4 linked regions of the Homo sapiens genome follow. The protein of the gene in region 3 purifies or fractionates together with the protein of the main gene of each other region. This does not show direct contact. Each region holds a gene or a part of one and is shown on either strand. Other genes may lie near its edges. The genes, in order: EHD4, AVIL, RBSN and IFFO1.

What was found.
Region 1: the proteins of RBSN (region 3) and EHD4 purify together in Homo sapiens (affinity purification with mass spectrometry; 2 studies listed by BioGRID and IntAct, with this or other methods). This does not show direct contact.
Region 2: the proteins of RBSN (region 3) and AVIL purify together in Homo sapiens (affinity purification with mass spectrometry; 2 studies listed by BioGRID and IntAct, with this or other methods). This does not show direct contact.
Region 4: the proteins of RBSN (region 3) and IFFO1 purify together in Homo sapiens (affinity purification with mass spectrometry; 2 studies listed by BioGRID and IntAct, with this or other methods). This does not show direct contact.

What each region holds. Positions count from the first base shown.
Region 1 is NC_000015.10:41,962,396-41,970,238, forward strand, and holds part of EHD4 (EH domain-containing protein 4), read right to left. Parts: intron 3,721-7,843; exon of another isoform or gene 3,593-3,720; intron 1-3,592. UniProt on the Homo sapiens protein: ATP- and membrane-binding protein that probably controls membrane reorganization/tubulation upon ATP hydrolysis. Plays a role in early endosomal transport.
Region 2 is NC_000012.12:57,808,104-57,815,946, forward strand, and holds part of AVIL (advillin), read right to left. Parts: exon of another isoform or gene 7,154-7,843; intron 6,124-7,153; coding exon 6,049-6,123; intron 5,321-6,048; coding exon 5,124-5,320; intron 3,025-5,123; coding exon 2,916-3,024; intron 2,824-2,915; coding exon 2,713-2,823; intron 2,449-2,712; coding exon 2,246-2,448; intron 1,788-2,245; coding exon 1,709-1,787; intron 1,623-1,708; exon of another isoform or gene 1,593-1,622; coding exon 1,494-1,592; exon of another isoform or gene 1,481-1,493; coding exon of another isoform or gene 1,439-1,480; intron 446-1,438; coding exon 292-445; intron 192-291; coding exon 91-191; intron 1-90.
Region 3 is NC_000003.12:15,069,338-15,075,756, forward strand, and holds the end of RBSN (rabenosyn-5), read right to left. Parts: intron 6,374-6,419; coding exon 6,269-6,373; intron 5,594-6,268; coding exon 4,445-5,593; 3' UTR 736-4,444; downstream 1-735. UniProt on the Homo sapiens protein: Rab4/Rab5 effector protein acting in early endocytic membrane fusion and membrane trafficking of recycling endosomes. Required for endosome fusion either homotypically or with clathrin coated vesicles.
Region 4 is NC_000012.12:6,538,513-6,546,355, reverse strand, and holds the end of IFFO1 (non-homologous end joining factor IFFO1), read left to right. Parts: intron 1-4,502; coding exon of another isoform or gene 4,503-4,583; exon of another isoform or gene 4,584-4,706; intron 4,707-4,713; coding exon 4,714-4,844; intron 4,845-5,767; coding exon 5,768-5,873; 3' UTR 5,874-6,817; downstream 6,818-7,843. UniProt on the Homo sapiens protein: Nuclear matrix protein involved in the immobilization of broken DNA ends and the suppression of chromosome translocation during DNA double-strand breaks (DSBs).

The sequences.
Region 1 (7,843 bases), on a different chromosome or scaffold from region 3:
TTGGCATAAGAATTTACAAACAGAATAACACGAGACAAAGGTCCTAACAGACTCAATATAGTATTTAATAACTTAGCGTATGAGGAAGCCTCATGTGACAGCAGAAAAAGGTAGATTTAATAATAGTGTTAGAAAATGACAAAAGACAAAAAAAAAAAAACCCACAACAATATAATTGAGACAGATTTTACTTCCAGGTGGGTTAAAAAGTTAAATATTTAAAAAGTAATCCTATTTTAAAAAGAGCGCCCGGCCAGCCGCCCCGTCCGGGAGGGAGGCGGGGGGCAGCCCCCACCCGGCCGCCGCCCCGTCTGGGAGGTGGGGGGCGCCTCTGCCCAGCCACCCTGTCTGGGAAGTGAGGAGCCCCTCTGCCCGGCCGCCACCCTGTCTGGGAGGTGTACCCAACAGCTCATTGAGAACGGGCCATGATGAGGATGGCGGTTTTGTCGAATAGAAAAGGGGGAAATGTGGGGAAAAGAAAGAGAGATCAGATTGTTACTGTGTCTGTGTAGAAAGAAGTAGACATAGGAGACTGCATTTTGTTCTGTACTAAGAAAAATTCTTCTGCCTTGGGATGCTGTTAATCTATGACTTTACCCCCAACCCCGTGCTCTCTGAAACATGTGCTGTGTCCACTCAGGGTTAAATGGATTAAGGGCAGTGCAAGATGTGCTTTGTTAAACAGATGCCTGAAGGCAGCATACTCCTTAAGAGTCATCACCACTCCCTAATCTCAAGTACCCAGGGACACAAACACTGCGGAAGGCCGCAGGGTCCTCTGCCTAGGAAAACCAGAGACCCTTGTTCACATGTTTATCTGCTGACCTTCCCTCCACTATTGTCCTATGACCCTGCCAAATCCCCCCCTCGGAGAAACACCCAAGAATGATCAATAAATACTAAAAAAAAAAAAAAAAAAGAGGCAGGGCACGGTGGCTCACGCCTGTAATCCCAGCCCTTTGGGAGGCCGAGACAGGCAGATCACTTGAGGTCAGGTGTTCGAGACCAGCCTGGTTAACATGGCAAAACCTTGTCTCTACTAAAAAATACAAAAATTAGCCAGGCATGGTGGCCCATGCCTGTAATCCCAGCTACTTGGGAGGTTGAGGCACAAGAACCGCTTGAACTGGAAGGTGGAGGTTGCAGTGAGCCGAGAACGTGCTACTGCACTCCAGTGTGGGTGGACAGAGTGAGAGTCTGTTTCAAAAAAAAAAAAAAAAAGAATATGAGTGAACATTTCCTGAGTCTTAAGATAAACAAGGATTTTCTAACCAAAAAATAAAAGATATTATAAAAAAGGAAAAATTGTTAGATTTGATCACAAATATTAAATATATCTGCATGGAAAAACTATTACAAAAATTACAAGGCAAATTTCAAACTGGAAAAACACTTTTACAACTGTGACAAAGGATTGATATCTGTTACTGAGAAAAACATTTACATTTATTTATAAGAACAAGACCAGGGCCAGGCTCGGTGGCTCATGCCTATAATCCCAGCATTTTGGGAGGCCGAGGCAGGTGGATCATGAAGTCAGGAGATCGAGACCATCCTGGCTAATACAGTGAAACCCCGTCTCTTCTAAAAATGCAAAAAATTAGCCGGGAGTGGTGGTGGGCGCCTGTAGTCCCAGCTACTCCAGAGGCTGAGGCAGGAGAATGGCGTGAACCTGGGAGGCAGAGCTTGCAGTGAGCTGAGATCGCGCCACTGCACTCCAGCCTGGGTGACAGAGTGAGACTCCATCTCAAAAAAAAAAAAAAAAAAAAAAAAAGGACAAGACCAACACTTCAAATGAAAATTGGACAAAGTTCACAGACAATTCAGACAATTCACAAAGTAATATGGAAGACAACTATATTTTATAAGTTCAACGTCACTAGTAAGAAATAAACAAATTAAAATAAGTCTGTTCTGGCTGAGTGCCCCATGGCTCACGCCTATAATCCCAGCACTTTGGACTTTGGGAGGCCAAGGCGTGAGGATCGCTTGAGCTCAGGAGTTTGAGACCAGCCTAGACAGCACAGCGAGATCCCAACTCTACAAAAAATGAATAAATTGGCTGGGTGTGGTGGTGCAATGTACCTGTAGTCCCAGCTACTCCAGAGGCTGAGGTGGGAGGATTGCTTGAGCCCAGGAGTTTGAGGCTGCAGTGAGCTATGATGGCATCACTGTACTCCAGCCTGGGCAACAGAGCAAGACCCTATCTAAAACACTTTTTTTTCCTATCAAATTAATTTTAATTAGTTTTACTGGCAGTTTGGTGAATTACTGATCCTCATATTTCTGGTGGGAGTCTAATTTGGAATAACTGTCCTAAAAAAGAAAGATAGATACATAGATTTAGGAATATATATAAGCCTGAAAAAAAAAAAAAATATATATATATATTTTGAGACAAGGCCTCACTCAGTTGCCCAGACTGGAGTTCAGTGGTGCAATCTCAGCTTACTGCAGCCTCGACCACCTGGGCTCAAGTGATCCTCCCACCTCAGCCTCCCAGGTAACTGGGACTACAGGCATGCACCACCATGTCCGGCTAATTTTTGTATTTTTTTTTAGAGATGGGGCTCACCATGTTGCCCAGGCTGATCTTGAACTCCTGGAGTCAAGTGATTTGTCCACCTTGGCCTCCCAAAGTGCTGGGATTACAGGTGTGAGCTGCTGCGCCCAGCCTATTATCTATATTTTTTGAGGCACTAATTTATGCTTAGGCTATTCTAAGAAAAAAACTAGAAATACAAAGATTTATGGCCAAAAATGTTCAGTTCATTGCAACATTATGTATAACAGCATAAAAACAGAAACAACCTAAATGTCCAACCTGTACTATAGATTATGATGTAGTCATTGAAGTTATTTTTGAAGACTATATAATGACATAAGAAAATGCTCATCGTATCATATTAAGCAAAAAAGAACCCCATTTATTAAATTATATTTACACAATCCTCAGTTTTGTAAGCATGAATTCTATGTCTTCATCTAAGTCACTGAGAGAAATGTGAACAGATGGGGTTTGGAACGGATGGAAGGTTCAGCAAAGTCAGCCTCCCTTTTCTGGGTTGAGGCTAGCCCTCTTCCATTCCTCCATTAACTGAACCTTCATCTGGCAATGGTTCCCAAATGTTTCCTAGGGGAGGGCACATAAGAATTACTGTGAGAGATGGTTTAGAAAAACAAAAACAGATTTTGGAGCCTGACCCACAGAGATTTCGACTCAGGAGGTCTGAGGTGGGGCCCTGGAATCCGTGTCAAAAGGCCTCCAAGTGATTCTGATGCACAGCCACGTGCAGAAGGAACCACGGCCTTCTGGTTCGAGGTTTTGAAAAGGACATTGAACACCTTTTGTAAGTCAGCTTCTGAATGTGAGTTAGGGAAGATAATGTCAGGATGGAAAAAGCCTTCCCCCTCCTACATTTCTCCAAATACTCTGTTGCTGCTTGTCAGGTGGATGATGTGACAACTGGCCCAGCTGCTGGCCTGCAGCGCTTCCCTGCTCGGACTGCAGCTGCCAGCGCTCCCCTGCCCACCCCCCGCCCCACCTACTCACCTCCTGCCTACCCCCACCACCCCACCCAGCCCCGCCTACCCTGCAGCTCCTTGCCCTGCTCTTCAGGACTTTTGCTCCAAGTCTTGCCTCCTCTTTGTCTTCTGAGATGCCAGCTGCTCCCTCTCCATGGCTTCCCTTCTGTCCACTTTTCATTCTGCTGAGGTTGTGCTTGTCTTTACCCAAACCCCTGTGATGCTTGTGGCCAGGCCTCCTTCCCCCAGGCCTAGCTGCTGAGAATTTGACGCCTCACATCCCACTCATTCCTCAACCCGCGCCATCTGGCTTCCTTCACCACCACTCACAGGCACACCTCTTGGCAAGGTCACCTGGCTCCCAAAGGCTAATCTACTGGTTCTGTTTCAGTCCTTTTCCTGGAAGCATCTGACACTACTGACCACCACCTCTCTCCCTGGCTTTTGTGGGGGTCATCGTTGCTTTACTTGCCTCGTATCCCCTTTTCTTGGTAGCAGCATCCTCAGGAGCTGCCTTCCCCAGCTCTCAGGCCACGTGGTTGGTGGGGCTGACCTCCCCACTCCCCACATTTCATGCCCCTGCCCCTAAGGATTGGTTCAGGGATGGGCATATGGTCAGGGTCAAACCAATGAGACTCAAGCCTGAGACTTTTACTGGGGCTGCTGAGCCAGCAGAATTCGAGGCTGGAAATGGAGGTGGCCGCCTGCCCACCCCTGAGAAGGAACACAACATGAGGAGGGCCACAGAGCCAACAGAGTCCTGGTGTGTCTCCTGCAGTCCTGGGCCAAGCCTGAAGCTTGCACATCCTGGTCTGATGGGTTTCAGGAAAACGTTCTTATCTTTTTATCTAAGCTAGCTTTGGTTGGATTTCTGTCACTTGCAACCTAAAGAGATCTGAGACAGCACTGAGCCACTACCCTCCCAGGCAATTACCCACCTCTTTGGTACTTTCCCCGGAGGGTCTCCACAAGCTCTGCTTCCTCTCACTTAAGAGTCCTGTGCAAGGACTTCTACTTCCCAGATGCTGGCTACTAAATGCTGACACTCCCAAGTCAACAGACCAGCCCAGATATCTCCCTGAGCTCCAGACCCATGTCTTACCCCTCATGGACATCGCCACCTTGGTGTCCACTCAAACATGACAGGTCTAAATCTAAACTTATCATTATGCCCCATCCTTCCTCTTCTTGGATCCCCATCTCAGTGAACAGCTGTACTCCCCAGTTACCCCAGAAACCGAGGCCTCATGGGTGACACCTCCCCACCCTCACTCCCTGGCCCTCTTTGGGCAGCTAATTCTCTGCTCATTCCTCAGGGCTCAGCTTTTAGGCTGCATTCTCAGGGAGGCAGCCTTTTCCAACCCGCAAGCCTGAATGAGGGGGTCCCTCCTATGCCCCCAGCCACCCTGTGTTTCTAGTGTTACAGCCCTTGTCACTCAGAGCTGTGGCCTGTTGACTCTCTTCTGTGATGGCTGGCCCCAACCCTGAAATCAAGATCATTTGAATAAATGAACACTAGCATCTGTAGGTGTGATCTTATATTGTATATTGAAAATATAGTCTAATTTTCTGTAAAAATTAAATATCTCAATATTTTAGAGAGATCTGTAAAGGGTATAATATTTGGAACAGAAGATTGATTTTCAGGAGCCCCAGTATCTGGATGAGTGTGAGAACCACTAAATAGGACCCATAGTTTTTCTGTGTGAGATTTTATTTTTTTAAAAATAGATGAACCAGGCTGCCTATTAGTGAATGCCTTCACTTCCCTTTTCCTTAATTACTGAGTCTAGAAACTTATCAAGGGAATGAAGCAGGCCTTTGTTCCTATTCAGAATCCATTTCCCTGCTTTTTTGAAAATGAGAACATCTGCCTGCTTCCAGTGTTCCAATACTTTTCATATTCTTCACAATTTCTTAAAAGCCACCAAATACAGTTCTTTGAGCAGAAATGCAAGTTCTTTCATCCATGTGTCCGGCCAGAGATTTCCTGAACCTCGCCTGTGGCAGGCCCTGGGAGAGCTCCTCAGCCTGTGGTTTTAATCCCCTCTTGAACACAGCTGGGCTCCCTTCTGCCATCTCTGGGGCATTTTCTTTGAGGAAAAGGAGGAAGCTGAGTAGTTCTGCTTTCTGTTAATATTGCAGCAAGAGCCCATGAGTGGGCCGATCACTTCCTGATTCTTGTTCTTGTTCTAATCATACCTTAAAAGGCTTTTTTAATGTCCAAGGCACTTTTACCTTCTCAGCCCACTCCAGCTTCTTGATCCTTCATACCGCCCATAAACCTTGTCTGCACCCTTGCACATGCACCCCTGCCCCTTTTTTCCCCTATTAAATACTATAGTTAAATGTTAATATCTAAAGTTTTTAAACACAATTACGGTATCAAGCATTTTATTAAAAATTTTTATCATACTTTGATTTTACCAACTTGAGTGTTATGAACAATGAACATGTTTATACATTGACAAGAATACTCATACAGGGATTGTGGGATGGCTACTTTCACTCCCTTTTCCCTCATCTTTACTCCTTTTTTTTTTTTTTTTTGTAGAGATGGGGTCTCACTATGTTGCCCAGGGTGGTCTTGAACTCCTGAGCTCAAACGATCCACCTACCTCAGTCTCCCAAAGTGTTAGGATTACAGGTGTGAGCCACTGCACCTGGCCCCTCATCTTTACTCTTTAGTTCCTTTGCCCTTGGGTTCTTCTAGCTTATTTCTACTTTGTTTTCTTTCTGGCATCCATTTCTATTTTAAATTATTACACATAGATGCAGAAATTACTTGGCTGGCGCTAGTTGCAGAATCATGAAAATTAAATCACATGATGCTTAGTGTTGAAAGACTGAATTGTTTTGGTTTTTTATTGAGATATAATTCATATACCAGAAAATTTATTCTTTTACAGGGTGCACTCCTTTAGTATATTCACAAAGTTGTGCAACCAATATCATTATCCAATTTCAGAACATTTTCATCACATCAAAGAGAAACTCCACGCCCACTAACAGTCATTCTCTATTTCGTTTGCATGCGGCTATCCAGTTGTCCTAGCACCATTTGTTGAACTATAGTTTCCCCCATTGTTCTAATAGTTTTTAAGTGGTTTCTTAGGATTCTCTACATAGAAGATCATGTCATCTGCAAAGAGTTTTACTTTTTTCTCTCCAGTCTGGGAGTTTATTTCTTTTCTTGCCTTATTTCCCTGCTCTCTACCCTTTTAAAGCCTATATAGTTTCTTGAGTGACTTCCCTCTTTTTTCCTCATTAGAATAAGTTTTCTGGGGAGAGGGAACAGAGCATATGAAGGGAGAAAGTGGAGCTCTTAAAAATGTGTAGTTTGGGATGGGGCGCGGTGGCTCACGCCTGTAATCCCAGCACTTTGGGAGGCCAAGGCGGGCAAATCACCTGAGGTCGGGAGTTTGAGACCAGCCTGACCAACATGGAAAAACCCCATCTCTACTAAAAATACAAAATTAGCCAGGCGTGGTGGCACATGCCTGTAATCCCAGCTACTCGGGAGGCTGAGACAGAAGAATTGCTTGAACCCGGGAGGGGGAGGTTGCGGTGAGCCGAGATCATGCCATGGCACTCCAGCCTGGGCAACAACAGCGAAACTGTCTCAAAAAAAAAAAATTGTGTAGTTTGCATTCATTTCAAATGGACTTCATACTTTTTCAGTGGAAATGTCTTCCTTCACAGCACCTGGGGCCAGGGATTTTCTGGAGGAATCTTTGAAATCTGTTTTCCTCAAGTTTTGGACACAAGCCTGGGTGAGCTCCATATCCATCCTTCCTCGGCTAGTACAGAGTCTAAGATGACATGGTCACTTTCCCCCATGCCCATCTCCCCTCCTTCTCTGGCCAATTCTTTATTGCCAGTCAAAGGCAGAAGAGCCAACAGCAATAAGAGAAGATTCCCACCATGTCAGCACAGGTTCTGTGTCATCAGTGACCTCTTGGAATGTGCAGGAAGCCAGGGAGATAAGAATCTATGGCTATGTAGATTAGGTACACCCCACAGCCAAGTATGAGCTTCTAGGGCCCAATCGCTAGAAGCAAACAACCCAGACCACTAACCAGGCTCTAACTAAGGCAGGATCCAGGATGCTCAGCACCCTGGGCCAACCCTTCCGCTCAAGATGAATCCATGGTTCATTTACAGTGTCTGGGGTGATATTTAATTCCAAGTTCACAAGTCTCCAGGGTAGCTGCCCTTTTGTTTGGGGATTTCCTCCCGGGTGCTAAATCACTTCCTCCTAGCTCCAATCTGAAAAGCAATTCAGGTCTCCTGTGGCCTCACCAAGCTTCCTGCCCAC
Region 2 (7,843 bases), on a different chromosome or scaffold from region 3:
CAGACACAGAATCACCTGCACCCCTGCCCCCAGCAGGACAGCCATGAAGGCCAGTGCTGTCTGCCCTGACATTTGAATCATTGGGCTTACCTCAACTTTTCCGTTGCCATCATCGACCATTCTTTCCTGGGCAGCTACCTCTGGCTTGGTGTGTAGCAGAGTCACATCAAATTTATCCTGGAAAACTTTAGCTGTGGAGAAAGGGTTGGGAAAAGCCGAGTGAGTAAGAAGCATCTGTGCCTGCTTTTCTAGAGTCTTAGCAATGAGAGGATGATCTGGGGGCAGTCTCACCAATTTTACCAATGCTGAACGTTTTCCCCAGGCCCATGGTCTGGTCCTTTACTGACCACTTCTGGAACAGCTGCTTGAACATGGCCGACTCAGCACCATCGTTGACGGTCTCCACATTGGTGCTGCTGGGGTAGCTCTTCATCTTGATGAAGCCCTGCAGAGCCACCCATTCCCAAAGGCAGGTCAGTGGTGGAATACACTGAGTTCTTTGCTTGTCTGGTAATTCACCTCTATGAAGCCACATGATATAAGCGTCTCCCCTCTGGGAGTCAGAGTCAAATTCTAACTCACTTTTGTCTAAGGACCAAGGTACCTGCCTAAAAAAAAAATGACTGAGTGGAACATTTTTGGATCTGTTTATTGGCTTGCGGTGATTATGGTTGTTAATTTTTAGGATGATTATGCTGTGTTCTTTCAGTACTTTTGTCCTTACTGACTTTGCATCACATTTGTTTGCTCATTTATTGCTTCTGGCTTGGTTCATCTGCATGGATCTGCACAAATATAAGCTCCTTGAGGACAGGGCCATTAACCTTGATATGTGATATCCCCTTCAATAATAACAGCCACCTTTTATTCAGCAGGTACTGTGTGCCAAGAACTGTTCTGAGTGCTTTTTTTTTTTTTAGACAGAGTCTCGCTCTCACCTAGGCTGGAGTGCCGTGGCGTGATCTCGGCTCACTGCAGCCTCCCGGGTTCAAGTGATTTTCCTATCTCAGTGCCCTGCCAGGTAGCCTGGACTACCGGCATGCGCCACCATGCCTGGATAATTTTTTTTGTATCTTTAGTAGAGACAGGGTTTCACTATGTTGGCAGGCTGGTCTTGAACTCCTTACCTCAGGTGATCCACCTGCCTCGGCCTCCCAAAGTGCTGGGATTACAGGCGTGAGCCACTGCGCCCGGCCCTGAGTGCTTTACAAATGATATTTAATCCTCACAATAACCCTAGGAGATGGGTATGACCCCCATGTTAGATATGGGGAAACTGAGGCCCACAGGTGTTAAGTATGTCTTCCCCAGAGCACACAGCTGGAAAAGACAAAACCTGGATTTGAATCCCAGTTTGTCTGCCTGACTTTGCAGTCCATGTACGTAAGCACAATGTTATATGCTCAAATACCTAGCATGGCTCTGTGGAGTGACACACCTGAAGTGCTCTTAGCAGAATTATTTGAACAGTATTGCACATCTGTAGCTCCTACCAGCGCTTTAGACATGGCTGCCTGTTTTTCAGCCTTTGTGGCTCCTTTTCCTTTCCACACGTAGATTTTGGTTCCACTTTGGTCCAGGATGTAGCAGTCCTAAAGCAGCCAGAGATAGGTATGGTTGCTCAAGACCAGAAGGAAGATTTTGCACAGGGTCTGCTTCTGAAGCATGTCTGGCTACCCCAAGCTAAGTCCACCCAAACTCTACTTACATCATGGTTCAGTAAGTCCTGGACCAGAGGCCTTGTTGCTACCTCTGTGACTGCCAGCTGCCCAGCTGAATCTGAGATACTGGAGAAGGGGAGAGGTTAGCCTGTGCCTTTTCCTCTATAAAGCATCTTGTAGTCAACTAGATGTTGTTCTGGTTTGGTTTTAGTTTGGAGTTTCTAGGTAGAGTGTGACTGCCTAAGACAGCCATGACTTGAGTGAGGACAGGAATGTGCAGACTCTTTTCTTTGGTGGAGACTTTTGTTCATCTCTCTCCCAAACATTATCCCTTCCACATCCCTGGGCATGTGTAGGCTAGAGTAAAGGAAAGGTCTCCTCAAGAGATCAGGAGAGTTGCTAACAAGAACTGCCTCCTTGAGTGGGGGATCTCCAAGCTTTCTAGGAGCTGCATTTGAAAAGGACTAAGAAGAAAACCAGATGGCTACACCCAAAACAAGGAGCCAAGCAGAGGTGGCTGGTGTTCTAGGGGACACCTTCCCCCCAACCCCAGCTTCCAGCTAAAACCAGGTTGAGCTACTCACTGATACAACATGATAGTTGATTTCTGCTTCTGATCTATGATCTCATCAGGGACTGTAGGCTTGATAATGGAGCGTCGGCCAAGGGTGTCCTGAAGGACCTTCATCAGCTCTGGGCTGGCTGCCTCCTTGTCTCCCTCGATCACTCCTATTTTAGCACGGCCCCCTCGCTCCCTGTCTCGAATATCCTTTGCCAGAAGCATAGCCTGTCAAAGAAGCCCAAGGAAGCCCTCAGCTCCTCTGGGACCCCTTTCTGCCTGATGTCTTTGGGGAGAACAGCCTAGATCCCAGACACAGGAGTTACTTGGATGCTGAGGAGTCCAGGGTGAGTCACAAACTCACACACTTGGCCTGTCTCCAAGACAGATTCTACTCAAAGGCAGGGCTCCACCTTGATTCTTGGGGAAGAGCCAGCATGGAGGGAAGAAGAAAGAGGAACTTGAGAAAGTGCTAAGGCTAGGAAGCCATACCTTCAGGCGCTCCCCACTGTTGCTCTCTGGGCCATTCCATTGGATGATGACTTTCCCAAGGTCCAGCAAGAAGACATCACCTCGGTTGAAACTGTCCCAGCTCATTTCCACCTGTCGATGAGAGGTAAACATTGTTCAGGAGGAATTCTTAGGTGCCAGGTGGAGAAGCCCCGGGCCTGGGGCAGAGAGTGTGCAGGACTAACCTCGGTAGCCCTGATGTTTCTTTTCCCTTTCACATGTAGCAGCCGCTTCACGTCGTAGGTATTGGTCTCCACGTGCTTCATCCCAGAGGCGACACCCCCCTGCTTGTAGCTAAGGGAACATCCATTCAGTTATTTGAGTGCCTGCTATGTGCTAGGTTCTGGGGAGACAGTGGTGAATTACACAGATGCAGCCTCACTCATGTGATGACAGTACATCAGCAAGGTAAATACAGATGGTGGCAGCTGCTGCCCCACAAGTAGACTGGGTGAGTGACTTTCTGGTAGCGAGTTGGGGCAGTCTTCTCTGAAGAAATGACATTTGAACTGAGATACTACAAGGAAAATGAACCAATACCCAGAAGAATAGTGCTCCAGGCACTATAACAGTGTCCAGGAGACATCAGTGACAAAGACCCCTGCACCACAGAGGGCTTGTTTTGTTCCAGGAACTGTCTGAATGCCAGTGTGTTACTGGGAGAGGGATACAAGTTGTGCTGCAGCAGAAGCATTAATGACTCCACGGCCTTAAGACCACCTACCCTAGGAATCAGCTCACCCGCCCTGCACTCAGCCCAGCCCAGCCTCCGAGCCAGGGGTCCTGCACTTTAAGGGAATGCGGAAGGTAGCCCTGGAGCAGAGGGGCTCTGTCCTTGGGTTCCCCAGTGGCTCAGTGTGCTCCTCTGTGCCCAGAAGGGCCTCAGTCAGTGGAGACTGCTGACCTGCAAGAAGCTGATCTTGGCCCAGCCTCACAATTCTCAAGCTCATTGGAATTCCTCTTTTTGTTTTAATATCAGGGGCAAAGTTTTGAGTTAAACTTCTCAGTTGATGGAACATTATCATCAGCCTTCGCTCCCTCTCTAGTGTTATGTGTCTGTGCATTCCCTTTATCTGCCTGTCCTACTCCCATTCCTCTCCCCAATACGCTTCCATTCTAACTGTTGACCTTTTTATTTTCATTCTAGTAAACTGTGTCCCCCACCTTTTTTTTTAAAGACAGGGTCTCACTCTGTCACTCAGGCTAGAGTTCAATAGTGCAATCATGGCTCATTGCAGCCTTGACCTCCCGGGCTCAAGTGATCCTCATCAGGGACTGCAGGCTCGATAATTGAGGGCTCAATACCCTCAGCCCATGGAGTAGCTAGGACTATAGGAGTGCACCGCCATGCCTGGCTAGCTTTTTTACAAAATATTTTTTGTGGAGATGAGGGTCTTACTGTGTTGCCTAGGCTGATCTTGAACTCTTGGGCTCAAGCTATCCTCTTGCCTCAGCCTCCCAAAGTGCTGGGATTACAGGTGTGAGCCACCACGCCCAACCCATCCTGTTGTTTTGTGTGCATGTTTTTGTTTTGTTTTGTTTTGTTTGAGATGGTGTCTTGCTGTGTTGCGGGGCTGGAGGGCAGTGGCATGATCTCAGCTCAGTGCAACCTTCGCCTCCTGGGTTCAAATGATTCTCCTGCCTCAGCCTCCCGAGTAGCTGGGATTACAGGTGTGCACCAGCATGCCCGGCTAATTTTTGTATTATTAGTAGAGACGGGGTTTCACCATGTTGATCAGGCTGGTCTTGAACTCCTGACCTCGTGATCCGCCTGCCTCGGCCTCCCAAAGTGCTGGGATTACAGGCGTAAGCCACCATGCCTGGCCATGCGTGTGCTTTTTAAAACAGAAATTGGCATTCTGTTATATGTCTTAGTCTGTTTCTTACTTTGTGTGCTAAGCACCATGTTTGTGAGCTCTGTCCTTGTGTTAGGTGTGTATCTAATCTGTTGCTTCTGGCTACTGCATAATACTCCGTGGTGTGCATGTCCAGTCTCCGAGTGATGGACACCTACGTTGCCTGCAGCTTCCTAACATCATTAATGAGGCTGCTATGAACAGTCTGGTCCATGTGCCCTTATGGACCTGGATACGTGAGGATTTCTGTGAGTTACACATGCAGAAGTGGGATTTGCAAGTGGCACTGACTACTCTCCAGGATGCTGCGCTAGTCCACACTTCCATCAGCAGGGCACAAGGGCTCCTATTTCCCCATAGCCTTGCCAACACTTGGCACCTCCCAGCTGTTTAATCTGCTGCTCTAGTGGGTGGAAGTGACAGCTTTGTTTTGATTTGCATTTCTCTGATTACTTTCTTGATAATGCATGTTGGCCTTTTGGGTTTCCTCCTCTGTAAACTGCTGTTTCTGTCCTTGCTCTGTGCACCCCTACTCACATGATGCCCTGCTTGAAGTAGCCACGGAAAGTGTCTGACTCATGGTACTGGACCTCTCGGTGCTGCACAGGGCTGCCTCCCAGGTAGTCGTCCAGCTGTGTGGTATATATGGCTGCGCAGCTTTGCTCATCCTGGGAGGAGTCCTTCCCGATCCAGAAGTGGATGTCCTGGGATAGGAGACTGGCCACTCTCCGGGTCTGGGAGGTAGTCAGAGAGATCAGGTCAGAGGCCAGCTCACCTCCCCTTTGCTGCTGGCCCCTGTTATGGGGAGAATGCAGCACATGTGCATGCCCTTGGCAGACTGAGGGCCCTCTCTCCTGCAGTGGATGTGGGAGCTGCCCTGGCCCCCGAGCAGACCTGCGATCATGGCATAAACTTTGGCAGCCCAAATTCCTCCCCGCATTTGGGGAAAGTTGACAGCTTGTTGTTCCCCAAATAAATAGATACCAACGGGGATCTTTTCCCAGCCGGGTTGCAGGCTTACCTCACAGGTCCCCTTGGTCCCTTGCACTCACACAGCTGGCACAGTGCTCATCTGTACACCTGCACGACCCTGTCAGCACCGTTCATGTGAGTCTCCTCCATGAGAATAGCACTTTGAGGCTAGAGACAGGCCTTGCATTTATCAGGCCTTCTTCCACACCACTTTAATGTGGGGCCTAGGCCCGGGAGAAGTGCTGCTTGTGGGTGGCTCACTGAGGTTCAGACTGAGGGTCCTACCCCCATCCTCTTATGCAGCATTAAAAACCCAGGCTTAATGATGGCCTTTGATAGTCAGACTGGAGGTCTGCTCTGCATAGCACTGAGGAACCATTGAGACCGATACCAGGGACTGACTACCTTCCCTCACCAGCACATCTCCCAGTACAGCCCAAGAACTGGCCCCAGGGGAGAGGCTCACAGGAGTGGGGAGGAGGGTGCTCACCGAGAGGATGACGTAGCAGTCCCCCTCATAGAAGTTGCCGTGGGCGCTCACAGGCACCAGCGCCAGCTCCATTTTCTGGAAGGACAAGGGGTGGGTATAGGCTACATCCCCTCCCACCTCCCTTCCCCATGAGCCTCCCTCTCCTCTCTGTCATTCGGTGCAGGTGGTGGGGAGAAGGAGGGGAGATGTTCTCAATGACCTTACAGGATGTGAGGCTGCCAGCCACAGGGTTAACGTGGCCATCCCTCTGGCTTCTGTGAGCTCTGCTTGCATCACCCCGGATCTGAACCTTGGTCCCTATCCTGCTTTCCCTTGCCCTATTCTCCACTCTACTTCCCACCCGATCTCATCTCGCACTATTGTGGGAAACCTGTGAACCACCTCCAGCCCTTTGCTGGATATAAACGACCAAGTACAAACCCTTCTCTGAGCCGTTGTGCCAGCACCTCCAACGCTCTTCCCAACGCTGACCACTGGGTGCTGGCCCAGGCCCATGTAAGAAAGAACACTTGGATTCTGTGGGGCCGTGGGAGGTGGAGGATAACATTTGGAGAGTGCCAGCGGTCAGCAGGGCTCTGTGCCAAGTGTCTTATATTTGGAGTCTGGGTCAGGGCCCTGATTTATCACTGCATGTATGGCTTGGCCCTGGAGGACTGTTCACACAGCCTTGATGTAGATTTTCATCACACTCCCCAAGTGAGGGAAACTTGCGGCCATACTTGTGTGTGTTCTATGTAAAATGTGATAAATGTTAAATATACTGCAAATCTGGTAACCGTGTTTTAGTACTTGTTTTTTGTTTTTGTTTTTGTTTTTTTTGAGAGGGAGTCTCCCTGTGTCTCCCAGGCTGGAGTGCAGTGGCGCGATCTCGGCTCACTGCAAGCTCCGCCTCCCGGGTTCACGCCATTCTCCTGCCTCAGCCTCCTGAGTAGCTGGGACTATAGGCGCCTGCCACCATGCCCAGCTAATTTTTTGTATTTTTAGTAGAGGTGGGGTTTCACTGTGTTAGCCAGGATGGTCTCAATCTCCTGACTTCGTGATCCACCCGCCTCAGCCTCCCAGAGTGCTGGGATTACAGGCGTGAGCCACCGCACCCCGCCAGTACCTGTTAGTTTTTAAGGAAACTGGAAGCCTTCAAACAGTGGAAGTGACCTGGGACTCACAATCTCTGCGAGGCTTGCTGGAGAGCTGACTCCCCCTCCTGGTTGAGGATAGTGAAGTGAGGCATCATCGCTGGGTTTTAGGCAGCAGCAACTGACTGGGCTCAGGGCAGGGGTTGGGGGGAATCCTCGTATCTGGCAGGTGGAGCTACCCAGGCCAGGGTGGTTCCCAGCTATGGATTGCTGGAGCTCACAGCCGCACAGAGGGTCCCAAGCCCAAGAGGAGACGGGCTGAACAGCTCCTCATCTCTGCAGTGCCCCCTCACCTCTCCCCATATTTTGTAGGAGCCAGGGTGCCCCGTGGAAGACATGTTCCATTTCTCTGATGGAAGCTGCCAGGAGTCTGCTGAGTAGGTCCCACCTGTCTTTCCAGGGTGTTTCCTGCAAGTGCAGACTCACTGAGCAGGTGGCTGGCTAAAGGACAAGCCTGTTTTTGTCTGGAGCCCTGTTCTTCGGGGCTGAACATTTCCTCCACCTGCCAACCACCTGCTTTGAGCACCCAGGAGAGGTGAAGGATGGGAAATAGGTACTTTGATGCTGCCTCTCATTCTCCTCAAACCATAGGCTAAGGGGTGCTGGCGGGCTGTTGCCTAGCAGCCCCAGGCAGCCAGACTGCTTCCAGATGCCAGTGGTCA
Region 3 (6,419 bases):
CTCCTGGTTTAAGAATCTATATATTCTTAAGGCCCTAAGGAGGTCTCAGTTTCACAGACTCAGGCAGTCACTATCGGAAACCAGCTCAGCAGCACCCAACCTCATTCCCCATTGCCCTTTTCTGCCCTCTTTGAGCTTGACACAATGGTTGAGCACCCACCACCACCACACCACTACCTGACCCAGCTACTTATTACTGAGGGCAAATTAAGTCAGGCAGATCTGGATTTAAACCCTCATTCCACCACTGACTGGCTGTGTGGCCTAAGCCAGGCTAATCTCTCTTAACTTTTCTACGTCTGGGGTCAGATGAACAGCTGAGTAACTACCTCACAGGCATGCTGGTAGTGCTAATGGAGGGAAATGTGGTCATGCAGAGGTGGTGACTGGCACAGATGGCAGTCACAAGGTTCCTCAATCTCTGAGCCTCAGTTTCTTCCAGTGTGAAACTGGGATGATAGGATCATTAAGGGATCTGCACTATACTTCTGTAAAACTGTTCATTTAACCAGCACTGCAGGAATAACTGGGAATAAGGGCAGAACTGGAACCCGTATCTATCCCCTGTTCAGAACCCAGTGACCTTCATTTTTTCCAGAGGCCTTAACCAGACAAACAACACAGGTGCTGGAACTATTCTGATACTCAGATGGTTGTCATCAAGAAAGGAGAAGGGATGTCATCTGATGATTCTCACTTGTAACACATGTGCACACAGACACACACACCCCCAACCTCTATCTCAGATTTTATTTTTTTTAAAAAAGGCTCCAATACAAGGCCCCAGAGTAGTGCATGCAAATCAACGACCCTCAAAGTGACAGTCATTGTCAGATAACAAGCACAATCTGCTACAGTCTGTGACCTGGTAAAGAGACCACCTTTTCATTTTGAGTCCCATCACCAACTATGCCAATGTCCAACCTACCACACAGCTCACAATGACTCAGAGGTACATTTTAGTATCTGAACAGCAAAGACATATTGAGCTGCAAGTACAATGAGTAAGTATCCTTAGTGTATTAGACAGGGTAAATACAAACAAGGCATAAAAGGGAAAAGCCAACTTCATCTGATGCCTGAATCCCTAAGTCTCTTCCATCTTTTCTCATGATCTGTGTCTAGGGAGATCTGCTATGCCATATCAAGACCTTGCTCATCTGGTGATGAGACGGGGCTGTTTGCCTTGGAAGACTAAAGAAAGGGTGAATATTCACATGAGGTAAGAACTTGAAGTTGTGGTTATAATACATAGGCCAAGTTTGCCTGCTGTCAACCCATCTCTGTAACTCCAACTTTGTGCCTGCATGAATTCTGCGACATGGTACAGCTGATGGGTAGAGAATTCTAACTCCTGTGATGTATTTACAGGAGAAGATAATCGTGGAAGAATTAAATGGAAGAATTCATAGAAGAATACAGCCATGGATAAACTTAATCAAAAGAATATGATTTTAGTTTGGTTTAGTATATTCAATCAGTCAGTTTTGTTTGTTTTTTGTGAGACGGAGTCTTGCTCTTGTCACCCAGGTTGGAGTGCAGTGGCGCAATCTTGGCTCACTGCAACCTCCGCCTCCCAGGTTCAAGCGATTCTCGTGCCTCAGCCTCCCTGAGTAGCTGGGATTACAGGCGTCTGCCACCACGCCCAGCTAATTTTTGTATTTTTAGTAGACACGGGGTTTCACCATGTTGGCCATGCTAGTCTCAAATTCCTGACCTCAGGTGATCCACCCGTCTCGGCCTCCCAAAGTGCTGGGATTACAGGAGTGAGCCACTGCACCCGGCCAGGCCTTTAAAAATAGTTTTTAAAAATGTTTCTTGTGTGTTTTTCAATGCTTTTAGTTACTTACAGATTGCTACCTGAGGTGATTTGAGGGAAGGGTATGTTTAGTGAATTAGTCTTAATCAAAATCACTAGCTAATTAAAAGAGAAATGTTCTCACAAGAAAAATAATTATGATGGAAAGCAGCAATTAGCTTCTGGAACTACCTGCTTTTCAGTTCATCCTCTTTTCAGAGAAATGAGACCCTAAGCAGGGAGGAGCCTACTGGCCATCTGAGAAACCCTCTAGAGTAACAGAGAAATGTCATGGGCCTCAGGGAAGAAAAGAGGCCTGTACCAGGCAACATCTTAGATGCCTGGTTGCCAACTTCTCAAAACAACCCATAACAACCAGCAGGGTTGGTAACTGGCTGACATTCATTAACACACTCATATGGCTGTTTGTGAACAGATCCCAAATGCAAAGCGTCCTTCACACACTTCTACCCACTCCCCATCTCCACACCCCTATACAAGATCTTTTCATTCAACCAAAAGGATAAGAAATGTGCTACAGAAATGTGAACATCAACACAAATACAGATTATTTTTTCATCAAGAGAGTTAAAACATTCCCATTATCAAGAGGGGTCTTCACCAGAATGTAACAAAATGAATTTCAGCTTTCACACCAGTAACCAGTGAAAGTATGGCCTAGAGCTAGTTACACGGCATAAAGTGACTAGTGGTCAGTTATTGTTCATTAGTTCAGATGAGTAACTGCAGAAACTCTACCCAGAGCTGAGCACATATGGCTATCATGATGTCAGATGTCAGTTAAGAGTTATGTTCCTGTAAACCAAAGCACCAGAGCTAAATTAACAATTTCCCTTTCTGGCCTTAATTGACCAACAGTTTAAGTACTGTGGTGCTACCAGCACGATCCTGGGTTGTGCTTCTTCAAACATTTCAGTTTCTCAATACTAACATTGGTAATAAAATATCTCATCAGGGCGGGCACAGTGGCTCACGCCTGTATTCCCAGCACTTTGGGAGGCCAAGGTGGCAGATCACTTGAGGCCAGGAGTTCGAAACCAGCCTGGCCAAAATGGTGAAACTCTACCTCTACTAAAAATACAGAGATTAACCAGGCGTGGTGGCCCACGCCTGTAATCCTAGCTATTCAGGGGGCTGAGGCACAAATATCACTTGAACCAGGGAGGTGGAGGTTGCAGTGAGCTGAGATCATGCCACTACACTCCAGCCTGGGCAACAAAGTGAAACTCTGTCTCAAAAAAAATAAAAAATCTCATCAGTGCCCCAAGTCAGGACACAATGAACCAAAAAGGAAGAAGGCTGATCAAATAGCCTTGGAAATTATTTTAATTTAGCTTCTGACTCTGGGAAGCTTCCCTTCTTCTGGTGATGTTCTGCAAAAGCTTCCAAATCACCGATTCCTAAATTAGAGACCCGGCCTTTTAAACAGACCCAGATCAGAGTAACTTTGCCAAAGCTCTGGAGGGAGATTTCTCCAGTGACAGACAATTGTTCTATCAGAAGAAGGGTGGGGAAACTCTTCTCACAAATAATACTAATATCAACCAAAAAGTTAACCACTCTTATTTTTTTTTGAGACGGAGTCTCACTCTCACTGCCCAGGCTGGAGTGCAGTGGTGCGATCTCGGCTCACTGCAAGCTCTGCCTCCCGGGTTCACAGCATTCTCCTGCCTCAGCCTCCAAAGTAGCTGGGACTACAGGCACCCACCACCACGCCTGGCTAATTTTTTGTATTTTTAGTAGAGACGGGATTTCACTGTGTTAGCCAGGGTGGTCTCGATCTCCTGACCTTGTGATCTGCCTGCCTCGGCCTCCCAAAGTGTTGCGATTACAGGCGTGAGCCAGCGCGCCCGGCCACCACTCTTATTTTCTAAAAAGCTCAGGACCAGATTCACATTGATACCCTGCACTGGGAGCTTAACTTCCTGAAAGAGACAAAAAAGAACTTAAACTGAGAAAATAGACCCTGGTGAAATATTCCCATCACCCCACCTTAAAAAGAGGTGCTGGGCTCTCCTGGGTCTAAACTCTCCCCTTCATAGCAGCACCTCCCCCTTCTATTGTACAGACAGGAAGTGCAGAGCAGGGGAGAGGCGGCCCCAGGTGAAATGGAACTCACAGCCTACTAGGGATGGACTTCTGTCAGAGCAGAATAGAGCTCAGTGGAATCTATCTTCTCTGTCTTGGCTAAAGGAAGGGCTCTAAAAAGGCTGCCCTATAATACTGCATAAGGAACCAAGACTAGGCAGTAGCAAATGGACCCAAGAGGTACACAGCAGCCATTTCTGCCCTGGGCCCAACAGAGCTGCATTTAGTTATATCTCGGTAGTAAAAATGTAAAGTCCCTTCAAAAGGGGTAAACCTCCGATTACAAAAGATAGTAATAATAAACAGGAAAAGCAGCAACTGAATGCTGATTCTCCCTGTTCTAGTTTCTATTTTATTATTCAACTGTAGTGGAAATACCTCAAAGTGCGCAACACAAAACAGCAGATTCCTGCCCCTCACCTGTGTGCATCTGAGTTCTCACCCTGCCACCTTCCCCATCCATCCTGCCTGCCCTCTGTCCTGCTCCACTGGCTCCTGCCAGACCCCTGGGCCCAAAGGTGCCCTCTCCACTGCTGGTCAGTCAGTGCCCCCCTTCTGCTTGGCCAGGGTGTGCTTCAGCTCCCGCAGATTCTCTGTCAGCACCTCTACCTCATCCAGGCGGCCGCACTGCTTGGCATCAAAGATGTATGCCTTGATGTTATCGATCTGCTGCAGGAGGAGCTCTTCCTCTATGGGCTCCTCAGCCTCTGGCCCACTGTCACTGTCCATCTCAAAGGGGTTGATACAGGTGGGTTCCTCAAAGGGGTTACCAGGAACCAGAGGGCTTGAGAGCCTCTGCTGGGGATGTTCGTCTTCCTCACTGAAGGGGTTAGGAGCTGGGCTGTCTGGCTGAATGAATGGATTCCCTGCCACTGCTTCCTCCTCCTCGTCCTCTTCCTCGAAAGGATTGTACTCTTTCAGGATGCGGGCTGAAGGGTCTAAGGAAACCCCTGCAGCAGGAGGACCAGTAGTGGCCTCTTCCATGGGGCTGGAGAGGTCTTCCTCATCAAAGGGGTTTAAGGAGGGCCCCTCATGTTGCTGTGGCATGCTGCTCTGGGGTAAGCGCTCCTGGCCAACGGCTGGGGGCCCAGACCACACTCTGGTGGGTTGAGTTGAGCTAAGTGAAGGGGTCTTGGGAGCTGTGCTGCTTGGAACTGGGGAAGAGCCTAGATCCAAAGCATAAGCAAGGTGGGTGCGAGGCTCTCTGCTGGGCTCCAGCTGAAAAGGGCCGATTTCTCTGAAGTCCAGGGACCGAGTCCGTGTGTGCAGGGATGCCACCCGAAACTGCTCCCTTTCTCGTTCCAACTCCCGTTCACGCAACATCTGCAGCTGTTCCCGCTGCAGGTCCTCCTCCTCAGCCTGCCTCCGGGACAGCTCGATGGCCTTCTCTGTCTGCTGCTGGTCATACTCGTCCTGCAGCTGCCGCAGGTTCTCCTGCAGAGTGCGCACTTCATCCATGCGGCCCGCGGCCTTGGCCTGCCTGATGAATGATGTGATGTTGTGGATCTGCTGGAGGAGCGGGTCTGAGTCCTCACTCTGCCCCTGACCTCCTGACAGTGGGAGCCAGCCCTCAGCCTTTCTCAAGGGGGCAGGGCCCCTGCGGAGAGATGCCACCTCCCCGTTGGCCGCTCGAGAAGCCAGGCCACTCTGCCTTTCCTCAAGCCTTCGCTGGGACTCCAGGGCAGCCTGGGGAGAGAGCAAAGCAGAGAGAAGAAACAGTCACTATGCTGGCAGCAGCCCACACTGTCACCCACCCTCTGTTGTCCCTCTATCCCTGTGCCAGTGACACTCCAATTTCTCACCTCAGGACAAAGATATCCAACTGCTAAAATCAAGTCATGTTTTTGTGTATATGTGGGCGGAAGGGAGACCCTGATTTTCAAAAATAAAATATAATGAATAAGTTAGGGCATCAGATTTTCTCAATCTTAGATTCACAGGCCGTATACTTTTCTTAAACCTCTAAGGTCTGTTCCCCTCATCTACACTGGAATCTCACGCAGCGTTAAATACACATATAATTTTCTGTTTAATATTGCATATACCGATATGTTCTACAAGGAACTTCCTAATGTCTTGGTCCTCTGCAACTCCTGCCATAGGGAGAACTGTCAATCTCTGTGGTATTCTAGCCATGAGAGAATCAGCAGAAGCTCTGAAAGAAAAATAGGCCCTGGGGAGAAAAACAATTATTCTAGTTCCCATAGATGAAAGTGAGGCTGAAACACAACAGAAGAAATATGCACATTTGAGAGAGAGGTTCTGATTCACTACAACCGCACACAACCTGGGAGCCCATGGCAGCCTCTGTGCTTGAGAGCCACAGGAGGAAGCAGGCCCCATATCCCTGGCTTCACTCACTTGTCTCTCCACGGCCCTCTTCCTCTCCATTTCCTCCTTCCTTTTCTTTTTCAGTTCCTCAAACTGTTCTTTGGTTGGCAGTGACATCAAACCAAGCAACTTTTCCTGCAGGGAGTGACAGACAATTTTACACTTAAACCCTTTTAGAGAA
Region 4 (7,843 bases), on a different chromosome or scaffold from region 3:
TGGAGCCTTCTCTGCGTCTCAGCCTCTCTTCAGGCCCACATGGGAGATTCATACGTAGTCCCCCCTTATCTTCAGGGCATGTGTTCCAAGACCCACAGTGGATGCCTGAAACCAAAGATAGCACTGACCTCCTGATAGCTTGGGTCCAGTTGCTGTCAACTGGAACGTGTTTCTGTTCATGTCTCCCACCCACACATTCAATGCCTTTTCTATCTTAACTAAGCACTTAGCGTGCGCTGTGGCGGTACCTTTTGCAGTTCGAGGTGTGACAGCAAAACTGGCACAAATTTCTTTTTCCTTCTTTACAATTTCACGGATAGAAGATTCATTCTTACTGTAGAGCTTACCAACCTCAGCATCGGATTCTTTTTCTTATTAAGTTGAAAACTTTTACCTTTTCACTTAAAGGGAGCATATTTTGGCTTCTCTTTCACATATCCAAATTGCCAGCATCACTACTCTTGTGCTTTGGGGCCATTATGAAGTAAAAATAAGGGTTCCTTGAACACGGGCACTGCCATACCACGACAGTCAATCTCATCACTGAGATGGCTCCTAAGTAACTAATGGGCAGGCAGTATAGACAGTGTGGATCCTTGGGACAGAGGGAGGGTTCATGTCCTGGTCTGGATAGAGTGAGGTTTTTTTTTTTTTTTCCGAGACGGAGTCTCGCTGTGTCACCCAGGCTGGAGTGCAGTGGCTTGAACTCGGCTCACTGCAAGCTCCACCTCCTGGGTTCACGCCATTCTCCTGCCTCAGCCTCCTGAGTAGCTGGGACTACAGGCGCCCGCCATCACGCCCGGCTAATTTCTTTTGTATTTTTTAGTAGAGATGGGGTTTCACCGTGTTAGCCAGGATGATCTCGATCTCCTGACCTCATGATCCGCCCACCTCGGCCTCCCAAAGTGCTGGGATTATAGGCGTGAGCCACCGCGCCCGGCAGAGAGAGTGAGATTTTATCAGGCCACTCAGAACAGCGTGCAATTTAAAACTTAGGAATTGTTTATTTCTGGAATATTTCATTTAATATTTTCAGATCAAGGTTCACCTTGGGTACCTGAAGCCGTGGAAAGTGAAACCAGTGGATAAGGAGAGAGTGACTTTATTCTTTTCATTTATTTATTTATTTATTTATTTTTTTGAGACGTAGTCTCGCTGTGTCGCCCAGGCTGGAGTGCAGTGGCGCGATCTCAGCTCACTGCAAGCTCCACCTCCCAGGTTCACGCCATTCTCCTGCCTCAGCCTCCAGAGTAGCTGGGACTACAGGCGCCTGCCACTACGCCCGGCTAATTTTTTGTATTTTTTAGTAGAGACGGGGTTTCACCATGTTAGCCAGGATGGTCTCGATCTCCTGACCTCGTGATCCACCCGCCTCGGCCTTCCAAAGTGCTGGGATTACAGGCGTGAGCCACCGCGCCCGGCCTTGACTTTATTCTTATTGCTGTCACATTGGAGGTGTTTGAGAAGGAAGTCGAGAAATTATTTTCCTATATACTCATTCTCCCAACACACATCAAACTGTCCTGCTCCTGCATCAAACCTGGTTTTCTTGGCCAGGTAGATGAGGTTTCCTGGATTTGTGCTGCTAGCTAAAGACATGGCAAGGGAAACCAGTACTCCCCACCCTCCCGTCTACCGCGGCTCACTGTTTCCTCCTCCTGCCTGACCTGATTCTTGTCTCCCTCTTTTGGATGGTGGATTTAAGGTTTGTGTTTTCACTGTGCCTTCAACCAACTAGGGGCCTTTGTGCGGCCATCTTCGTGAGAAGAGATCTCGGGCTGCCATCTCTCCCTAGTCTTCCCTGGACCTCAAGTGCCCAGTGTAAAACATGATCTGAAAGAACGAAAATAATATCTTAAATGGAATCATGCCTTTTAAGCTATTTTTGGCTGGGCGTGGTGGCTCTCGCCTGTAATCCCAGCACTTTGGGAGGCCAACGCGGGCAGATCACTTGAGGTCAGGAGTGTGAGACCAGCCTGGCCACCAACATGTGAAACCCCGTCTCTACTAAAAATACAAAAAGTAGCCAGGCATTGTGGTGGGCACCTGTAATCCCAGCTACTTGGGAGGCTGAGGCAGGAGAATTGCTGGAATCTGGGAGGTGGAGGCTGCAGTGAGCTGAGATTGTGCCACTGCACCACAGCCTGGGTGACAGAGCAAGATTCCATCTCAGGAAAAAAAAAAAAAAAAGTATTTTCAAATCATCTGACTCCTCCTCTCTCCCAGTGCAATGACTTTAGGCAGCAGTCCCCAACCTTTTTGGTACCAGGGACTGGTTTGTGGAAGACAGTTTTTCCACTGACCCGGGGGAAATGATTTTGAGATGATTCAAACATTACATTTATTGTGTACTTTATTACTATTTTTAAAAATTATTATTATTATTTTTAGAGACAGAGTTTTGCTCTTGTTGCCCAGGCTGGAGTGCAATGGCGCAATCTTGGCTCACTGCAGCCTCCGCCTCCCGGGCTCAAGCAATTCTCCTGCCTCAGCCTCCCAAGTAGCTGGGATTACGGGCATGTGCCACCACGCCTGGCTAATTTTGTATTTTTAGTAGAGATGGGGTTTCTCCATGTTGGTCAAGCTGGTCTCGAACTCCCGACCTCAGGTGATCCACCACCTCGGCCTCCCAAAGTGCTGGGATTACAGGCATGAGCCACCGCACCCGGCCTGTGCACTTTATTTCTATTATTATTACATTATAATATATAATGAAATAATTATACATCTCACCATAATGTAGAATCAGTGGGAGCCATGAACTTGTTTTCCGCAACTAGACGGTCCCATCTGGGGGTGATGGGAGATAGTGACAGATCATCAGGCATTAGATTCTCATAAGGAGCACACAGCCTAGATCCCTCGCATGCACAGTTCACGTAAGGTAGGGTTCAGGATCCTGTGAGAATCTAATGCCGCCGCGGATCTGACAGGAGGTGGAGCTCAGGCTGTAATGCCAGTGATGGGGAGCAGCTGTAAATACAGATGAAGCTTCACTCACTTGCCCACTGCTCACCTCCTGCTATTTGGCCTGGTTCCTAACAGGCCACAGACAGGTACTGGTCCGTGGCCTGGGGTTTGGGGACTTCTGCATTAGGGGAACCGTTAGGAGGACTTGCTGACCTCAGGAGTACCCAAGGTGCCTTTATCTTTGTGACCTTTGATCTCTCAGGGTCACTAAGATGGAGCAAGGTAAAGCCAAGGCCCAGAGTGGTGGGCGGGAGGCAGTTCTTCCCCACCGCTCCTCACCTCTCTCTGTCTCCTCCCGTCCCACCCCCAAGTCTGTTCACACAGCGAGCCTGCAGTTTTCAAGGTGGCTTGTCAAGGACATCTCCTGACATGCACGTTCACCTCCTGACCTTGTTCCTGCTGTAAATTTGTGAATTAAGTGGGGACATAGACATATGCAGAGACTACTGGTGGCAGTACTAGCCTTGTATTTCAGTAGAATATATTTGGTTCATTTCCTTCTTCCCAGTCTCCCTGAGTGATGGTTCCAGAACCCAGCTCCCTGCACTCCGGTTCTTCCAAGGTGGAGAAATTGGGGTGTAGGCAGCTGATCTGAACAAGGGCTGGTGGCACTGTATTTTCCCCCTGGGTTGAACAGTCACCGTGTCCTGCTCCTCCCACTACTGTGGGGCCCCAGCTGTGGATCCAAGCCTGCCAGGGAAGCTGTCCCCACTAGGGCTTCTCACCCAGCCAGCCGCCATCTCACCCCAAATGTCACTGTCCTGACCATCTCTGCTGTCTGGCCCTGTAACCTGTTTCCTTCTTTCTCTAAGTTCCCACCCTCTCTGTCCAATCCACATTATGGCAGCTGGTATCCTCCCCGTTCTCTTCACTCAGGCAGTCACGAACGTCATCTCCAGGAAGTTTCATTTTGCTTCCCCTTGCGGCCCCTGCCCTTTGTACCCAAAACAAAGAGAGGCAGTCGACTGTCCCTGGCACTGAGTTTGTGCTGCCTGGGCCCTGCCTCTCCGCCTGCCTCAGAGTGTGGGCTGCAGAATGGGCCCGGGGAGGGAGACCGGATTTCTTTGATTCTGAGCCCCGTGTTTTCCACGTGTGACATTTCTGAAATCAGGACAGGTCTCAGAATCAATGGCACCTCCAATATGGGAGTCTTCCTTTTAGTGTCTGAAAATGGCTTTTAGGTGAGAAAATAAAGTGATAAGGAGAGAATGGTAAGAGGATTGGGCCCCTTTCAGCAGTTAGCCAGGCTTGTATGCCACGGGTCACAGAGAGAGTTAATTCCCTTCGAGGTCTGGGTCTGCCAGGATGAGGAAAACCTGTCGCTAACCCTTACGGGAGCTCACAGTGCAGTGAGGGGACAGCCCAGGACCAGCGCAGTACAGGGGATGAGGGGTGAGCCGGGCCCCATAGGAACCTGTGTGGCCCTGGGAGCCTGTGGATCTGCTCCATCCCGCCCACACTGACTTTCCTCACCACTCTTATCAGTCTTAAAAGAACACAGCCTGCAGCAGTACCTTTGCATTCCTCCATAGGCAAAGATTTCCAGGAAAAGCAGAGGAAACAATGGTGTATTCGCTGCCTTCTGCCTTGGTCTGGTTTATTTTAAAATCTGAGCCTTCAGTAATGGCTGCCTGGGCCCCCGGCCCAGCCACTGCTCTTGGCGTGTTGGCCTCCTGGCGGGGGCAACAGAGGCGCTGTGAACGCCACCTGTTAACCCCGATGGCCCTGCCTGCCCCACCACAGCTGGAGTTGGCCACGGCCAAGAACGACATGAACCGGCACCTGCACGAGTACATGGAGATGTGCAGCATGAAGCGCGGCCTGGACGTGCAGATGGAGACCTGCCGCCGGCTCATCACCCAGTCTGGAGACCGGTAGGCGCCTCCCCTGGGCATGGGGCCTTCCAGGGGGACACAGCGGGGAGAAAGGTTGGAACACAGCCCCAGAGACCCTCAGGCAATGACTGGGTCACATCTTGCTGTGGGGCTGCCCTTTGGGAGTTACCTGGTGGGGCTGGCCCAGACCCACAGCTCTCTCCCTTGGCAGTTGGATGAGCTATGTCCATTCATGACGGGAGGGCTGAAACCTCCCAAGGCCACCAGCTCTGGTGGTTCCCCTGGTTAGAGGCAGTTTAAAAACTGGCAAGGAACAGAAGGGTTGTGGGGGCAGATTTTTATCTAAAGTCAGGGCCATGATTTGTGCATTTGACCCTGTGTAAGTTACACCGCAACAAGAAAGTGAATTTTTAAAAATCACAAAAATACTGCAGATAGACATAAAGCCAAGGCCCTAGAGTCAGGGTGCTGGAGGCTCAGCAGCTTCTCTCCTACTGTGACTTCAGCTATTTCTTTTTTTTTTTTTTTTGGCTCACTACAACCTCCGCCTCCCAGGTTCAAGTGATTATCTTGCCTCAGCCTCCAAGGCGCCCGCCACCACACCTGGCTAATTTTTGCATTTTTAGTAGAGATGGGGTTTCACCATGTTGGCCAGGCTTGCCTTGAACTCCTGACGTCGTGATCCACCCGCCTCTGCCTCCCAAAGTGCTGGAATTACAGGCGTGAGCCATCATGCCTGACCTCAGCCTCTGAGTTCCCAAGACACAGGCGGGGCCCATTTCCCTGTCAGGGTGGGTTTGGAGAGAGTTCAGTCCCTGCCGCTCCCTCGCCATCCCGCGGCCCCGCCCTCGCTTCCGGTACTTCTCACGGGCTGCCAGAGGGTGAGGCAGCAGGAGGAGGAGTGCCGTCCGTCTTCAGGATTCCTGCCTGCCCCAAGGTTGACAACTGGTGTTTTTTTCTAGAAAGTCTCCTGCTTTCACTGCGGTCCCGCTTAGCGACCCGCCGCCGCCGCCAAGCGAGGCTGAGGACTCCGATCGCGATGTCTCATCTGACAGCTCCATGAGATAGAGACCTGCCTCCCCCTTGCACCCGAGGCCCTCGCAGCAGGGAGCTCAGCGAGGCAGAGGGTGGGGCTGCACAGAGGGGAACATCAGCTGCAGCTCTGCACCAGGCCGGTCCCTGGGGACTGGGGCGCTCCTCCCTCAGGCTTTCTCCCTCAGTCTTGGCTTCTCCAGGGCTCTGGGGTGTCTGGAGCTAGGCTTGGCCCTACCATTCTGGGGCCATTTCCACCACAGTTGGGGCTCTCCTGCCTTCACGCGTGGGTGTCTGCTACTTCCCCATCTTTAAAATGCTGCCAGAGCGATTGCGGCCCCTCACCTTGTCCACGTATCAGGAATGTGAATGTGGGACCTTTCCTCCATCCCTGTTGTCCGGAGCCAGCTCACTGTCTTCCACACTGGTGCTAACTGGCCCAGGCACTGGAGTGGAATAGAATGCAGCTGGAGGCTACGCATGGCCTCTGCAGCACACGCAGCTGGAGAGGGCTTCTGTCCCTGTCAGCGGCAGAGGGCGTTGGGGCTGGCCGGGGCACCTTGTCCCTGCTATGGTCCACGTGCTCACGCTGTCCACCTGCCAGGTGGAGTGTATGTGGCTGTGGCCCTCCCTCGTGGAGGTGCCGTGCTTTAAAGAGGCCTTAGTGCCCGGGATGGGCACAGTGTTTTGAAGGGAGGTGGGAGCTCTTGCTCTCCTGGTCACTGCAGAATGACAGAGAAGGTGAAGCTCCATGCATGTGTGCGCGGGTGTATGTGCGCTCAGGGTCTCTGTTTAAGTATCAGCTAAAGATGTGCTTCCTCCGTGTCTGTCATACACTGAGACCAACAGGCTACAGTGTCCCTGATTCTTGGAAAAGCCTGGAGAAGCTGGGGAGATGCGGTTCACAATGCCTCGGTATAGGAGGCTGTGTTGAGCTGACATTCAAATGGATTCTTTAATAATAATGAAACTGGCGAGTATTTATTGTGCACTTTGGTGTCACTGTCTCAAGCACTTCCTAATATTCACTAGTTTGAACTCTGAGGTAGGTACTTTTTTTTTTTTTGAGATGGAGTCTCATACTCTGTTGCCTAGGCTGGAGTGCAGTGGTGTGGTCTCAGCTCACTGCAGCCTCTGCCTCCGGGGTGCAAGCGATTCTCCTGCTTCAGCATGCCTGTAGCTGGGACTATAGGCATGTGCCATGAAGCCTGGCTGATTTTTGTAATTTTAGTAGAGACGGAGTTTCACCATGTTGGCCAGGCTGGTCTCAAACTCCTGACCTCAGGTGATACACCCACCTTGGCCTCCCAAAGTGCTGGGGTTACAGGCGTGCGCGCTCTACCGAGGTATGTACTTTTGTCTCCACTAGGTAAGCACACGTGCAAAGTGAGGCCCGGGAGTAACTGCCCAAAGCAACTGAGCCGTTCAGTGGCAGAGCCAGGGGTCTGGACCTAGGTCCCAGCTACACGCCTTGCCCCTACCCAAGTTCCCCTAAGGACGATGATGGAAATAAGTCACCCTGACACATCTCAGTTCATCTTCCTCAAAACTATGCGAGGTGGGCATTTTTACCGATTTTTAAACATTATATAGTCCTTACCGCCTTGGGCATGGTTTTAGGTACTTGGTTTACCTAGATGAATCCTGCTTGAAGACCTTAGGGGCTGGCCACGATGTCCTCAGATAAGACACGAGGGCACAGAAAGCAATAGAGCACGTGCTCAAGACCTCACAGCTGCGGAGGCCAAGCTGGAATTGCCCGCTGCAGCTCAGCTCCAGGCTGAGCTCCACTAACCAGTCAGCGTCAGAGCCCAGTGCGAGCCCTGACTTCCTCCACCTGTCAGCCTCCCTGGGGCTGCCCACAGAATAGCTTCTTCCATGTTTGGCCAACAGCAGATAGCCTAGGACTGGAGCGAGGAGAGGAAAAGGCCTTGTTCTCTGAAGTAGTGGTGCCAGCTTCCTGTAGCACTCAAGACGTCTGAGCGGGAAGCAAATGGTTCTCGAAG